Linked DNA regions of Homo sapiens: region 2 is linked to region 1. The links come from fine-mapping of genetic effects on gene expression. Tissue or cell type: coronary artery. Region 1 holds a variant in brackets; the other region holds the start of a gene. All regions are shown on one strand. Distances are between the middles of the regions.

What was found. PIP is the estimated chance that this variant, and not a neighbour inherited with it, causes the effect.
Region 2: it holds the start of RBM23, and the variant in region 1 is fine-mapped to the expression of RBM23 in coronary artery (GTEx, PIP 0.98).

The regions. Positions count from the first base shown.
Region 1 is chr14:23,000,363-23,008,464 of GRCh38, forward strand. All of the region lies in intron 1 of C14orf93 (chromosome 14 open reading frame 93), which reads right to left. It overlaps LOC124903286 (a long non-coding RNA gene), which reads left to right and starts at 2,064. Exons shown (of 2, transcript XR_007064075.1): 1 at 2,064-3,021; 2 at 6,206-8,102. RefSeq lists enhancers at 6,279-6,648, 7,582-8,102 and a silencer at 6,809-6,858. The variant C/T (reference allele first, on the strand shown) is at 3,677.
Region 2 is chr14:22,914,184-22,922,272 of GRCh38, forward strand. It overlaps RBM23 (RNA binding motif protein 23), which reads right to left and starts at 4,966. Exons shown (of 14, transcript NM_001077351.2): 1 at 4,816-4,966. It overlaps PRMT5 (protein arginine methyltransferase 5), which reads right to left. Exons shown (of 17, transcript NM_006109.5): 16 at 7,993-8,057; 17 at 6,346-6,873. The coding sequence ends at 6,721. It overlaps PRMT5-AS1 (PRMT5 antisense RNA 1), which reads left to right and starts at 5,273. Exons shown (of 2, transcript NR_120600.1): 1 at 5,273-6,937. RefSeq lists enhancers at 3,018-3,782, 4,271-4,440, 4,511-4,620, 4,711-4,780 and a silencer at 5,041-5,340.

The sequences.
Region 1 (8,102 bases):
ACAATTTCTCTGAGAGATGCATTTCTCTCTTACCCTGTAAATTAAAACATCACAATTAAAAGGAGAGGAGGAGCCGGGCATGGTGGCTCACGCTTGTAATCCCAGCACTGTGGAAGGCTGAGGTGGGCCGATCACCTGAGGTCAGGAGTTTGAGACCAGCCTGACTAACATGGTGAAACCCTGTCTCTACTAAAAATACAAAAATTAACCGGGCGTAGTGGCGGGCATCTGTAACCCCAGCTACTCGGGAGGTTGAGGCAGGAGAATCACTTGAACCCGGGAGGCAAAGGTTGCAGTGAGCCGAGATGGTGCCACTGCACTCCAGCCTGGCAACAGGGCGAGACTCCACCTCAAAAAAAAAAAAAAAAAAAAAAGAGTAGGAGGTTAAGAGAATTTTCTATATATTGAGGGTTTTCTTTTTTCTTTTTGAATAGGCAATCTCATTTCAGAAAGAGGCAATATCAATGCCTCTGAGGTACTAAAACATAAATCTGACAATGCATTTTAATTACATGTGGTTATTAAAGAATAGTCTTTAATTTGCTCTTTCCACCCTTTATATCGAAGAAATGGCTTTTTCTGTGCCAGATACTTACTTCTCGCAAAAGCTTAACTCAAATACATTTACAGCTTCCTTGTCATTATAGTCACTGGGAGGCACAGCTAAACCTGAAACTAAAGGTTAAACCAAATTAAAACTAAAGGTTAAAGGAAAGCACTAAGCACTTCTATGTCAATTTATAGATGAATCACTTATGTATTCTTTTCCTTCCTAAATAAGGGCCTACACTGCTCCTGCAGAGCTTTTTCTTTTTAATTCTTTATTTAACCTACATCATGCAGGGAGTTTGCTCTTAAACATAGATGCTGTGGGCAAAAGAATGTTTTGGTGATAATAAATAATAGTATTCAAATGCTTGCCAGCTGGGTTCAGTATTTGTAAAATCAGTAATTAAGATGCATCCGGCTGGGACACTGGCTGAGTTGTCTAACTCCTTTCTGGTACCAAACTCTCTTGCCTCACGCACTTACTCTTTCTTGCAAGAGGCTTTTACCCCTACCAGTGTTGAGCCTGCCTCAAGCTCTTCCCCTCTCTTTTATTTTTATTTATCATTTTTTTGAGACGGAGTCTCGCTCTGTTGCCCAGGCCAGAGTGCAATGGCAAGATCTCGGCTCACTGCAAGCTCTGCCTCCCAGGTTCAAGTGATTCTCCTGCCTCAGCCTCCCAAGTAGCTGGGATCACAGACACGTGCCACCACATATGGCTAATTTTTATATTTTTAGTAGAGACAGGGTTTCGCGCTGTTGGCCAGGCTGGTCTTGAACTCCTGACCTCAGGTGATCCACCCGCCTCAGCTTCCCAAAGTGTTGGGATTACAGGTGTGAGCCACTGCGCCCAGCTCCTTCTTCTTTAAATAGTCTTTCCTTGGTCGTCCTTCCTTGGTCATCTTTCCAAAACAGCACTGTACTGCAGGTTAAAAAAAAAAAAAAAAAAAAAAAAAAAAGGGCTGGGCGGTGGCTCACGCCTGTAATCCCAGCACTTTGGGAGGCCGAGGCCGGCGAATCACGAGGTCAGGAGATGGAGACCATCCTGGCTAACACAGTGAAACCCCGTCTCTACTAAAAATACAAACAAATTAGCCGGGCGTGGTGGCGGGCGACTGTAGTCCCAGCTACTCTGGAGGCTGAGGCAGGAGAATGGCGTGAACCCGGGAGGCGGAGCTTGCAGTGAGCCGAGATCGCACCACTGCACTCCAGCCTGGGCGACAGAGCGAGATTCCGTCTCAAAAAAAAAAAAAAAAGGGTGGCCGGGCGTGGTAGCTCACACCTGTAATCCCAATACTTTCGGAGGCTGAGGTGGGTGGATAACTTGACGTTAGGAGTTCTAGACCAGCCTGGCCAACATGGTGAAACCCTATCTCTACTAAAAATACAAAAAAATTGCCAGGCATGGTGATACTTGTCTGTAATCCCAGCTACTCAGGAGGCTGAGGGAGAAGAATTGCTTGAACCCAGGAGTCAGAGGTTGCAGTGAGCCGAGATCACGCCACTGCACTCCAGACTGGGTGATGGAACGAGACTCCATCTCAAAAAAAAAAAAAAAAAAATGAGGTTCTCCTCTGGCTGCACCATTTATGAGCTGTGTGAACATTAGTAAATTATTTCACTTTTCTGAGACCAAGTTTCTTCATCACTATCTACTTTGAGTGGTTTTTGTGAAGATTATACATAATATATGTAAGGCACCTATAGAGTGCTGGCACATGGTCAGTGCTCCACTAGTAACGGCTGGATGATATTATGGTTATTCCTGTAACATTTTGTGTTCCCAACCTGGACACCCACCCTGATTCCTTAATCTTTTTTTTTTTAAGAGGCGGGGTCTTGCTATGTTGCCCAGGTTGGTCTTCAACTCCTGGCCTCAAGCCATCCTCCTGCCTCAGCCTCCTGAGTAGCTGGGATCACAGGTGCGAGCCACCACCTTGATTCCTGATTCCCTAATTTTGAATAAAATGCAATGGCTTGAAATAGAATTTGGGGAAATTTGCCCCCAAATTTAATATTGAATTTCTAACAAACAACACATTCCTCAAGTCTATGAGGATGCATTTATAGATACAAAACCTTCTATGACGCAAATTAGAAAGGTAATTTAGTATTTGTAATTTACTTGCTATCATGACCTGGTCTCAGACTAAGGATAATATTTTATGCTAGTTTTTAATGCTAAATGTATTTTCCTATTGTGAGTTCAATTTGTTCCTCAATTGCTCTTCTGTTTTTCTACTTTGTATGTTACCATACTATGTCCATTTTAAAACATCACATTCAGGGCAACAAATAGGTGTTTTCCTGAATTAATTTGCCTATAAAAACTAGGTACAGTGTGGTCTAGCACAATGGGCATTCAAAGAATTCTTTTTTGGTTTCCATGGACACTATTGCTGACTTCATTTCCCAGCCTCTTGCTATAGTCTCTCACCTAAACTCTAAGATATGGAAAGATATTGGGATCAGCAGGTAATAAACGAGTATTTCACATTATATTTACTAACCAGGTAACTACTTAAGTGCTGGATAAATGACTCAAAACAAAACATTAATTTCATTAGCTGCATATACCCCCATTAAAGAAGGTGAGCTGGGCCAGGCACGTGGCTTACGCCTATAATCCCAGCACTTTGGGAGGCTGAGGTGGGCGGGTCACCTGAGGTCAGTTCGAGACCAGCCTGGCCAACATGGTGAAACCCTGTCTCTACTAAAGATACAAAAAACAAAACAAAAAAAAGTAGCCGCGCATGCTGGCGCGTGCCTGTAATCCCAGCTACTCAGGAGGCTGAGACAGGAGGATGGCTTGAACCCAGGAGGCAGAGGTTGCAGTGAGCCAAGATCACACCATTGCACACCAGCCTGGGAGACAGGGCGAGACTCCGGCTCAGAAAAAAAGAAGGTGAGCTGGTGAGTGGGGTGAGATATTTTTAGGCTAATATATTCATATATATATATATATATATATATATATATATATATATATATTTTTTTTTTTTTTTTTTTTTTTTTTTTTGAGACAGAGTCTCGCTCTGTCGCCCAGGCTAGAGTGTGGAGGCACGATCTTGGCTCACTGCAACCTCCACCTCCCAGGTTCAAGCAATTCTCCTGCCTTAGCCTCCAGAGT[C/T]GCTGGGACTACAGGCATGTGCCACCACTCCCAGGTAATTTTTGTATTTGTAGTAGAGATAGGGTTTCACCATATTGGCCAGGCTGCTCTTGAACTCCTGACCTTGTGATCCGCCCTCCTCAGCCTCCCAAAGTGCTGAGATTACAGGCGTGAGCCATCGTTCCCGGCCAAAATATATATATATATATTTGATACAGAGTCTCACTCTGTCGCCCAGGCTGGAGTGCAGTGGCACGATTTCGGCTCACTGCAACTTCTGCCTCCCAGGTTCAAGCGATTCTTCTGCCTCAGCCTCCCGAAGAGCTGGGATTACAGGTATGCACCACCACACCTGACTAATGAATGCTGACCTCAAGTGATCCGCCCACCTTGGCCTCCCAAAGTGCTGAGATTACAGGTGTGAGCCACTGTGCCCAGGCCCAAAAGTTTTTTATATGTAAGTCCATGTTAAAGGATGACTCACCAAAATGCATTGCACACTACTCAAATGAAAGGAAGACAAAGTCTCTACCTATAAGGCACTTAAAGTGTATTTCAGATGGGAATGTCTAAAGAATATGGGATGTTCTAAACATGGACTATCTAAAAAACAAATTGAGGCCAGGTGCAGTGGCTCAAACCTATAATCTCAGCACTTTGGGAGGCTGAGGCGGGTAGATCACCTGAGGTCAGGAGTTCGAGACCAGCCTGACCAACATGGAGAAACCCTGTCTCTACTAAAAATACAAAATTAGCTGGGTGTGGTGGCACATGCCTGTAATCCCAGCTACTCGGGAGGCTGAGGCAGGAGAATCACTTGAACCCGGGAGGTGGAGGTTGCAATGAGCCAAGATCGCACCACTGCACTCCAGCCTGGGCAACAAGAGTGAAACTCCGTCTCAAAAATAAATAAACAAACAAATAAATAACAAAGTGAAATACACACAAGTCCTAATAATATGGTATAGACTGAAAAATTTCTGAGGCGTTAGTTCAAAATAATGGAAACATTAACAAAATGAAATCATACTGAGAAAGAGTTCTTACAGAAGAAAAGCTTCCAGTTGAGCCTTGAGCAATGTATAGGATTAACTGATAGGGTAGTAAGACATTCTAGAGGAAAAAAAAAAAATTACAGGACTTAACAGGGTACATGTCAGAGGTCAGAGCAAAGGCGCTTATATAGTAAGATAAGGAGAATTGACAGAGTTATAGAGATGGGGTATAGAGATAATTGGTTAAAGACAACTGCAAGGTTATAAGCCTAAGAGTAACAGGATGGTACCACCACCACCACCAGAATGACAGAAATGAGGCAGTTGAGAGGAAATACCATGGCTGGGCATGGTGGCTCATGCCTGTAATCCCAGCACTTTGGGAGGAGGAGGATCGCTTGAGCCCAGGAGTTTGAGACCAACCTCGGCAGCATAGCAAGACCCAGTCTCTAAAAAATAAATAAATAAAAAGAGGAGACACCAGTATATTAGAGAAGAAGTGTATTTATTTAACATTTTAAATTTCAAATGATGGCAACATGTTTAAGTAGAAAGTCCTGAAAACAACTGACTAGGTCTAAAAAAGAGAAAAAGATCTTCAATCTTGGGATGCGTTGCCAACACAACATGACAGTAGATGTCACACTTAGGTTTGCAAAAAATATAAGCATTTGGGGTTCATTTCAGTATTGGTCTAATTTAAATAAATGTGAAACGAGCCTTAAAAATGTACTTTCCAGTACTTTTGGTATTTTTCATAAATATTTAGATAAAAAAGAAAGACAATTCATCTCCTTTAGACAGACAGTTCAGGGTAAGACTGTCCATAATTTTAACTATCCCTTTCCTCCCAAGTCACATTTTTGTTAGGACTAAATATATCATACTCTTGGCAGTTCCCTTGCTTGCTTTCTCCCCATTCTGAGTTTGAATTTTCTGCATGACTGAGTTCACCTCCAAACTATGAAAAATAAAAGTTTTCTCACTATTTAATAGATGTGTATGATATGGTATCACTCAGATGATATATGTTTTTATAATGGGTGCTTGACTCATTCAGGGTCATGCTAGCAATAGACTTCCTTAAATGTGATTACTGAAAGCATGGCAATTCATATCATAATCTTCATTTTAAGAAATAAATAAGGAAAACGGCCACTTAAAGCTCCTGCTGTGTTGGTCAGTCCTACTCCTCCACTTCAAGGTGCAAAATGGCTCACCTGTCAAAAGGTTCTCTCAAAACCTATTTTTATCAGAAATGAGCTCCTTATCACACAAGAGCAGCTAAGTAAATACCACAAAATACTATTTTCCCACATTTTAAAAGAGTGACTCGACTAATGGTCTGCAAAAAATCCAAGACCTTATTTTTAGGGGTAAAAAAGAGAGCTGTAGACCCAGAAGGCCGAATGCGGTCTTTAAAGGATTCCACGTAATCTGAAAATTCCACGTATATTTCTATAGCAGGATGAGAATTTTTAGCCCAGTATAGCACAGTCCTTTTTATTTACATTTGCTAAGATTACATTGGTAAGATTAATATTTCCGATTTCAGGTTTGCCTAAAGGACCCACTGCATTTATGGAGAAACTGAAAAATGAAAAAGTAGCTCCTAGAACTCGTGCCAGCGAGAACTTGGTAAATGTTAGTTGATTAAATATTAGTCAAGGATGACAAGGTGGACCCCAGGGAGGGCAGAACCGTTTCCGATGGGTCAGTGTGATTCAGCTACGGGAAAGGCGATCGCAGCGACGCGGGAAGCAGAGATCGGCGACTGCTCAAGAGGCCTCAGGGGACAGGGTGACTCGCCACTGTGCCCTACCATACAGTGCGCTCTGGGAGTCCCGGGTAAAGGGGGTCATTCCCGCGAGGGATGCGGAGAGCAGAGCGGCCGGAGGAGCGGCTAGGGATCTCGCCGGGTCACCGGGGAGGGTAGACTACGTAGCCCCGAGAGCTTTGAGAACTTGGGCTGAAGGCGGCGCTCGCCGTGAGAACTGACGCGGAGGTGCAGCTTTGCAGCCCTACAGATGTTCTACCGCGTGTGCCTGGCGCTACCGCACGGGCTGACTCAGCTAGGCAGAGGCGGAGGCGGGCGCGCGGGAGACAGAACTATCCGCGGCGCCTGCCCGTGTACCCGGCTACCGCGCGCACGCGGGGAGACACCGCCCCGTTTGCCTTCTGGCTCCCGGTGATTGGCGGTTAGACGATGGCTGGGGAGCAGGGTCACGGACACTATTGGCTGCAAACAACAGTCACTCAAAAAGTCAGGTAGGGGAGGGGCCTCCTCAGGGAGGGACAAGACTGTGAGGCTTTTTCAAGGCCGTCAGACGCCATCTTTAGCTTGTTTTTGTTTACTTGCTTTTGTTCTCTGCTGCTCACAAACCTGTGTGTACACGATTATAAGCACAGTGGCCACAAATCGGCGTCACACGTTGGGTGGTGGCCGACTTTTAGTTACTGCTGGCCTCGGTTACATTTCTTTCACATGTCACCTGCAAATTAGCAGCTCCTCACAGTTCAAAGAAGTTTCCAATACTAGGGGCCCCGAGGATTCCCAGGCAAAATCAACAGAGTTTAGTTTTGCTTTGCTTTGGAAGGCCAAGCCAACGATATATATGTGCGAGGAATTCTCTCCTTTCTTAGGAAGAAAAAGCAAGAACAGTGGATATGACCCTACGTTCCTGGATGTAGAAATCAAATAGCCTAGGAAATCAGGGATACGGGCTCTGCACTGTTCAGGGAGAGCTCTCCCTATTTTTTGAGACGCTAAAAAGTAAGGTAAAAAGTATATGTGATGACCTGTAGTGATGTGGAAAAGAGCTAAAAAGGGTAAAACTCCATTAAAAATTCCCGTAACTGGCCGGGCGCGGTGGCTCACGCCTGTAATCCCAGCACTTTGAGAGGCAGAGGCGGGCGGATCACCTAAAGTCAGGAGTTGGAGACCAGCCTGACCAACATGGTGAAACCCCGTCTCTACTAAAAATACAAAAATCAGCCCGGCATGGTGGCACATGCCTGTAATCCCAGCTACTCGGGAGGCCGAGACAGGAGAATCGCTTGAACCCAGGAGGCGAAGGTTGCAGTGAGCCAAGATCGCACCATTGCCACTGCAGCCTGGGCAACAAGAGCGAAACTCCGTTTCAAAAAAAAAAAAAAAAAAAAAAAAAACTCCCATCACTGTTGTGATCACAAAGATCACTAAAATGTGACTAGATTTCAAAGAAATGCAGGTCTGAAATTGTGGAATAATCCACAGTCGAGCCAGTATTTATTAAGCACTGGTCTGACTTGAATTGTTAGAGAATAAAAATACACTCAGCACAAGTAAGAAACCCAGAAAGCCCAAACAGGGCCACTTTTGTTATAAATTTGTACAAGTAACTTTATTGCAGTCAGTATTTAGGAGTCAAATACTGCTTGAAATAGAGTAGGATGCTAGCTGTGTAATAGAA
Region 2 (8,089 bases), 86 kb before region 1:
GCATGGTGGCGCACGCCTGTTGTCCCAGCTACTCAGGAGGCTGAGGCAGGGGAATCGTTTGAACCCGGGAGACAGAGGTTGCAGTGAGCCAAGATCGTGCCACTGCACTCCAGCCTGGTGACAGAGCAAGACTCTGTCTCAAAAAAAAAAAAAAAAAAAATAGCCGGGTGTGGTGGCAAGCACCTGTAATCCCAGCTACTCAGGAGGCTGAAGCACTAGAATTGCTTGAACCCAGAGGGCAGAGGTTGCAGTGAGCCAAGATCACGCCATTGCACTCCAGCCTGGATGACACAGCGAGACTGTCTCAAAAATACAAAAACAAACAAATCTTTGGGAGTGATGGTTTCACGGGTGTTTAACATATCAAAACGCATGAAAGTGTACACTTTAATGTATACAGTTTTATCGTGTGCCCATTAAATGTACCTCAATCATGCCGTTAAAAAAAAAAACCTGAGGAATTTCTATGCAAGGAGGCTATCATAATCAGACTTTTTCATAACTGTAAGAACTTTGTTGGCCAGCCGTGGTGGCTCACCCTGTAATCCCAGTACTTTGGGAGGCCAAGGTGGGTGGATCACCTGAGGTCAGGAGTTCAATACCAGCCTGACGGATATGGTGAAACCTCATCCCCATTAAAGACACAAAAATTAGCCGGGCATGGTGGTGGGCGCCTGTAGTCCCAGCTACTCAAGAGGCTAAGACAGGAGAATCGCTTGAACCTGGGAGGCAGAGGTTGCAGTGAGCCGAGATCACACCACTGCACTCCAGCCTGGGTGTAAGATGGAGTAAGACTCCATCTCAAAAAAAAAAAAAAAAAAGAGGAACTTTGTCCTCTTTAAAGCAGCTAATGCACTATGCAACAATGCTGCCTTGGTTGCCCTAAGAGTCCATATCCTATTTTGACAATTAAATAAGTGTAATAATTACAACTATGATTCTATGACTTACAGTACCTACAACTGCTAGACACTGTGCTAAGCATGTTATGGAGAGAGAAGATTCTTAGAGAAAAATTACTTGGAGCCAAATTTAAGGCTTAAATGGAAATTAAACCCAAATCAAATTGGTATACATAAAAACCAGTAAACTCAATTGCCTCTGCCTCCCAGGTTCAAGCAACTCTCCTGCCTCAGCCTCCTGAGTAGCTGGGATTACAGGCATGCGCCACCACATCCAGCTAATTTTGTATTTTTAGTAGAGACCAGGTTTTCCGTGTTAGTCAGGCTGGTCTCGAACTCTCGACCTCAGGTGATCCGACCGCCTCGCCCTCCCAAAGTGCTGGGATTACAGGCATAAGCCCCATGCCTGGCTTTTTTTTTTTTTTTTTGAGAAGGAGTCTAGCTCTGTTGTCCAGGCTGGAGTGCGGTGGCACAATCTCAGTTCACGCCAACCTCTGCCTCCCAGGTTCAAGCGATTCTCCTGCCTCAGCCTCCTGAGTAGCTGGGATTACAGGTGCCCGCCACTACGTCCCACTAATTTTTGTATTTTTAGTAGAGACAAAGTTTCACCATGTTGGCCAGGCTGGTCTCAAACTCCTGACCTCAGGTAATCCGCCTGCCTCGGCCTCCCAGTGCTGGGATTACAGGCATGAGCCACTGTGCCCGGCCTTCTACTTCTTCCAGTAACACTTTATATTTATTTAGCAATCAAAGGTAACAAATGCTGCAGACAGGTAATATATGATTCATACCCAAATTTTTTAAAACTAACGTTTTTTGAACTGCTCAAAGTCATACATAGCTCAAGGGCCAGGCAGAGGGGGTGGCTCACGCCTGCAATCTCAGCACTTTGGGAAGCTAAGGCTGGAGAATGGCTTGAGGCCAAGTCAAAATCAGCCTGGGCAATACAGTGAGGCCCCATTTTTACAAAAAATATAAAAATTAGCCACGCATGGTGGTGCGTGCCTGTAGTCCCAACTACTCAGGAGCCTGAAATGGAAGGATCGCTTGAACCCAGGAAGTTGAGGCTGCAGTGAACTGTGATCATGCCGCTGCAATCCAGTCTGTGCAGCAGATTGAGATTCTGTCTCAATCCCCAAAACAGAGAAGGTCACACAGCTCAAAGGGAAGAATGTTTTTTTTTTTTTTTGAGACAGGATTTCACTCTGTTGCCCAAGCTGGAGTGTAATGTTGCAATCTCGGCTCACTGCAACCTCTGCCTCTCTAGCTCAAGCAATCCTCTAACCTCAGCTTCCCCAGTAGCTGGGACCACAGGTGTGCACTATGATGCCAGGCTAACTTTTCATATTTTGGGCTTTTTTTTTTTTTCTGGTAGAGACATGGTCTCACTATGTTGCCCAGGCTGGTCTCAAACTCCCGGACTCAACAGATCCACCCACCTTAGCCTCCCAAAGTACTAGGATTACATCTGGCCAGAGGAGCTAATTCTTGATCAGAAAGGTTTTCTGACTTCAAATCTAACATTATATCTATTATATCAGATTACTTCTCATATGGTTTGTAATTAACTTTAAAGGAAAAAAAAAAGGACACAGTATACCAAGATACCTACTTTTAAATATATACTCACTGAACATGAATGTTCTTCTCATATGTTTATCAAAATAATCAGTCCCATTAGCTAAACCTCATTGTGAGTCTCCTATATCTGAGGCATGTACAGTGTATGCTTAAAGGTATTAGACTAATATACACTATGGGAAAATAGTTCTAAAAAGAAAAGTTTGTTTTTGTTTTTTTTTGAGAGAGTTTCACTCTTGTTGCCCAGGATGGAGTGCAATGGCGCAATCTCGGCTCACTGCGACCTCCACCTCCCAGGTTCAAGCAATTCTCCTGTCTCAGTCTCCCAAGTAGCTGGGATTACAGGCAGGCACCACCACACCTGGCTAATGTTGTATTTTTAGCAGAGACGGGGTTTCTCCACATTGGTCAGGCTGGTCTCGAACTCCTGACCTCAGGTGATCCGCCTGCCTGGTCCTCCCAAAGGGCTGGGATTACAGACATGAGCCACCGAGCCCGGCCTAAAAAGAAAAGTTTTTTATACTCAAGCTGTTTCAGTCATTTTTGCTGCCAAGTCTACACAAATTTTCTGTTATGAACTATTTTTTACAATCTGCTTTTTCCCCTCCAAATGAAATGCTTGATTTCAAGAACTGCTCATTGTTGAGTGCTAATGCGGGGTAAGAACAACTTAACACACACACTAAAACTTACACTTAAGTTTACAAGCCTCTACAAATAAACCTCTACGTAAAAAGTTTTCACTCAGAAACAAATATATCCGTTTAAGCAAAGCCATATACAACACAATATTTTGAAACTTGCAATCTCACTGGGTTTAGTGTCTTTCTAGATGTGCTAAAAGCAATAAGGTAGCAAACACTATGCATTTTCAGGCTGGTAGTTTTTTCTTTTTTCTTCTTTTTTGTTTTTTTTTTGTATTTTTAGTAGAGACGGGGTTTCGCCGTGTTAGCCAGGATGGTCGCGATCTCCTGACCTCGTGATCCGCCCGCCTCGGCCACCCAAAGTGCTGGGATTACAGGCGTGAGCCACTGCACCCGGCCCAGGTTGGTAGTTTTCAAACGCTCTCTTCATGTCCCAACTTATGGGTCAAGGTCCACTCAATCTCATCCACATAGAGTATGTTTTCTTCCATCCTGCTCCAAAAACAGTATTAGAGACCCACAATCACGTCAGTTCCTAGACCTCGTCATAGCACAAGCCAACAGATAGACCCCACTGCTAAAGGAGCAGAGAGAACCACTGTCAGACCAATTCGGGAAGAATTCACGAAAAGCTGGAGCCCCAGGGGTGATGGTAGCGCCATCCCCAGGGTCTGATCACTTAGCTGGGCACAAACACCTACAAACTGAAGGCAGCTTAACAAAAGAGGAACAATGAGAACGATAAAAGCTACTTGAAGGACCACCCTCCCCATGTTGTGTAGCTTTAAAAAATGGTCCTATAGGCCGGGCGCGGTGGCTCACGCCTGTAATCCCAGCACTTTGGGAGGCCGAGGCGGGTGGATCACCTGAGGTCAGGAGTTCGAGGTCAGCCTGGCTAACATGGCAAAACCCCATCTCTATTAAAAATACAAAAATTAGCCGGGCGTTGTGGCAGGCGCCTGTAATCCCAGCTACTCGGGAGGCTGAGGCAGGGGAATCGCTAGAACCCGGGAGACAGGATGCAGTGAGCCGAGATCGCGCCACTCCACTCCAGCCTGGGTGACAAAGCGACACTCCGCCTTAAAAAAATAAAAAAAAAGAGGTCCTATAGGCAACCAACTGGCACAATCTCTGCGGGAGCCAGTGTCCCAGGGCTCAATCTTCATATGTGGCATCATAATACGCCTACTGGAATGAGTGCTTGAAAAAGTTAAATGGGAAAAGCCCATAAAGGTCAACATAGTGAACATGAATCTTCGACAGACTAGAGATTGAGGAAGAAAGCTCAATTCCCTTCTCTCTCTCTGAATGGTGGTGCGAGTGGCTGAAACTGATGATGCGTGTCCTCTCAGGCCGCGGAGGGTCGATGCTCCCTCTCCAGTGTGGGCGACCCTAAGTGTCACGGCTGCAGAGACCCGGAAAGAAAAATCACAGGATTCTAGAAACCGCATCTTTATCGGTGCAAGATACAGCCACGAGGGTGCCCAACTCTAAAATCGTGGCAGTGGGCTACATTTAAGTAGCTAACACTTCCAGGTCAAAACAAACAAAGGTTTTTTTAATGTTAAAAGTTCGCCTGAATCTCTTCGTGACGCCATTTTCTGCCCGTGACGTCAGGGGGGAGGCGCCGTGCAGCAACGTCACGCATTGGTGACGTCTGGTGGGGACCGGGTTTTGGGGTTTCTCACCAGTTCCGGGTCCCCGCAGGGGGGTCCCGGTTCTCTCCGTTCCTTTGAGTATGTTGTGGGGAGTGGAGCTCGGATAGTTCCTAGAGTCTAGGCAAGAAAAGCAGCACTGCAGGTACAGAGCCTCCTCTTCCCGCAAAATGGCGGCAGCTCTGCCGTCTTCCAGAACCTTCCCCAATCTGCGCATGCGCCAAGACTCCCCGGCTTTGGAAATAACCTCACTGGTTTCGCGGCAACCGTCCAAAGTACAGGTTCTCATTGGCTAAAGTCCTAAGTATGGGTGGAGCAAACTCAAATGCGTCTTAGCAACCACCGAGTTCCCATTGATTGGCTAACCTCAGAGACTCCAGAAAATGGAAGCGTCCTTTGGTAGCCGCCCATCACTCTCTCATTGGTTAAATGACTTGCGGAGGGCGGGGAAAACGGGACTGAAAACGGGAGTGAAGAAGCCACCAACCCCACTCCTGGTGCTCGCGTAGACTAGACCAGTGCGATGGGCGGAGCCAACGAGGAGGCACAATTTACATCCTTGGCCGTCCCTACTCGGATTTGCTGAAGGAGTCACGTCGGTCGTTAAGGTTAAGCTTTGTAGAGAACAGCGGCGTTTGTTTAACGTCCGGGGATGCTGAACTCGAAATCCCCGTTCTGAGCCGGCTACCTAAACAACCTTCCCGACCACCTCTCCTGACCTCGGTGCTTGGGACCAGGGAAAAGCAGATCTTGCCACAGACTTGTCTTGGCCCACACTCTGCCCTATCGTCATGGCCTGCTCCCACAGGTCATAACTTCCGTTCAAATCAGTACCCCCACATTTCCCACTGCAAGGGTAAATTTGAAAGTTTCTCAGGTGACTCCTTGGATGTAGCAGTACTGAGTCCTCTAACCGGAAAGAAGGAACTGATGTCCACCCTCACTTTCCAGGGGCCTCCAGGAGCCCCTAGACACTTCTGTGGTCTACTGTAGCTACCAAAAATGTAGCTGGTTATAACATGGGGAGAGCCAGAGTCGGAGGACCTGACTTCCAATTCTGACTTGGATACTAATATCACATCATTGTACCCATTTCAAACTCCCCCTCTGTAAAATGGAAAATTGGACTAGATGATCTCTTAGGACTTCAAACTGTAACCCTGTGGTTTTATTCAAAAAAAACAGGTAGCTTCTTGCTGGAGATTCCTGGATGGATTCCAGTCTTCCCAAGAGGTAACAAAGGAGAGGTAACCAGTTGCCCGTGCAGTAGCTCAAGAATACAGAAGAGAAACTGGCTTCACTCACTATTCCATCTTTTTCCAAGGTGGCAAACTCTATGCCTCCTCCCCAGAGAAAAGCCTAACTGTAGGTTCTAATGGACAAGAGCTCACTGTAGCTGGTCAGAAAGGCCTATATCCAGGACTACAATAGTCATTGCTCAGCTTCCTAAGTAGGGAATACAACTAGGCCCCTTTGGGTCTTGGATAGGCTAAGAGGACAGATCTGAACATGCCTGGGTCTAAGTGAGGTGTGGGAAAATAGTGGCAGGGGGCAGCATGGTCGTGCAGTAAAGGGCTATAACTTTATTTGTATTTCCTCTTACACAAAACCATCAAAACAAGAACAGAAAAAGGCTGAAAATCCGTTCAAACCCCATGTTCTCAGGGATATTCCAGGGAGTTCTTGAGGCTGAGTGCGTAGCTTCAAATCCAGCACTAATTCCTCACCCCCTGGCCTGAGGTCTTCATAGATTGGTGGCTTGAGCCCTGCAATTAATTATAATCCCTTGCCCACCTTGATGTAAGGCAGGAAAGCAGATTGAAATGCTCCTCTCTGATGGGCAAGGGGAATCACAGCCCATAGATGTACTGCACCTTCTGTACTACAGGAGCAGAACCTGAAGCTGCTTCCAAGGCTCTGGACACTTGGCACGCAGGGCTAGAGGCCAATGGTATATGAGCGGCCTGTGGGGTTATGAATAGCAGAACAGACTGGTGCTGTCACAGCCCACTCATACCACACCTTCTTGGAATTGCTGCATCGCCAGAAACGCACACAGATGGTTTGGCCTTCACGTACCGTTATGGGCTGCTGTAAGAAGAAAGACAGGAAGGTTCAGGGTGAAGCTATGAATTATACATGGCAATGTATTAAGGTAGGTGTGGAGATAAAATGATAAACATGACAAGACTGTCCCAACCCTCATGAAAGTTATTTGAAGCCTATCAGAACACAAATAATCAAAGGTGTGGTGAGAGCTGTGAACATGTACAGAGTCAGAAAAACACCTATGAAAGGGAACACTAACCTAGTCTAGGAGATCAGAGAAAGTTTATCTCACAATAAAAATGTTTAAAGAAGACCTAGAAGATAGGTTAACTGTGTGAAGAGACAAGCAAAGAACTCTACAGGCAAGAGAAAGGCATGAAAGCCTGAGGTAGGAAAGAAGATAGACAATTAGAACAAAAAGAAGGTCCATAAGGCTGAAGCAGTGTAAGCAAGGGGACAGTAGCTGCAAAGGCAAGCAAACACTCGATCACATCAAGTCTTACAAGCAATGTCCCAGATTTTGACTTTTATCCTAAAGACAATGGGAAGGCATTGAAGAGTTTTAAGCAAAAAAGAGAGATAAGATCAGGCCAGGCGCGGTGGCTCACGCCTGTAATCCCAGCACTTTGGGAGGCTGAGGTGGGCGGATCATGAGGTCAGGAGATCGAGACCATCCTGGCTAACACGGTAAAACCCCGTCTCTACTAAAAATACAAGAATTAGCCGGGTGTGGTGGCTGGCACCTGTAATCTCAGCCTCAGGGAGGCTGAGGCAGGAGAATGGCATGAACCCGGGAGGCGGAGCTTGCAGTGAGCCGAAATTGTGCCACTGCACTCCAGCCTGGGCGACAGAGTGAGACTCCGTCTCTTTAAAAAAAAAAAAAAAAAAAAGACAGCAAGAGAGATAAGATCAAATTTGAGTTTTTAAAAGATGACTCTTGCTCAAAGTAGAGAACAGACAGAAGAGTAGCCAGAGTAGATGCGGGAAAGCCAGGCAGAAGGCCACTCCAAATACTCCCAACACCTACCACTGGGATCCAAGAGCATATGAAATCAGGAGAACATGAGTCATAGTCAACTATCTTCCTGGGAGAAGGAAAGAAGCACAACACCAAAGGCAAAGGTTACTGCTTAACTAGAGAGTCTTAAAAGCAGTTCCTACCTTAATAGGGAAGAGGATGGGAAACCATGAGAACATCCCAGGAGAGTGAGTCTCTGGACGGATACCTGTGTGGACAAAATAATGAAAAAACAGAGGT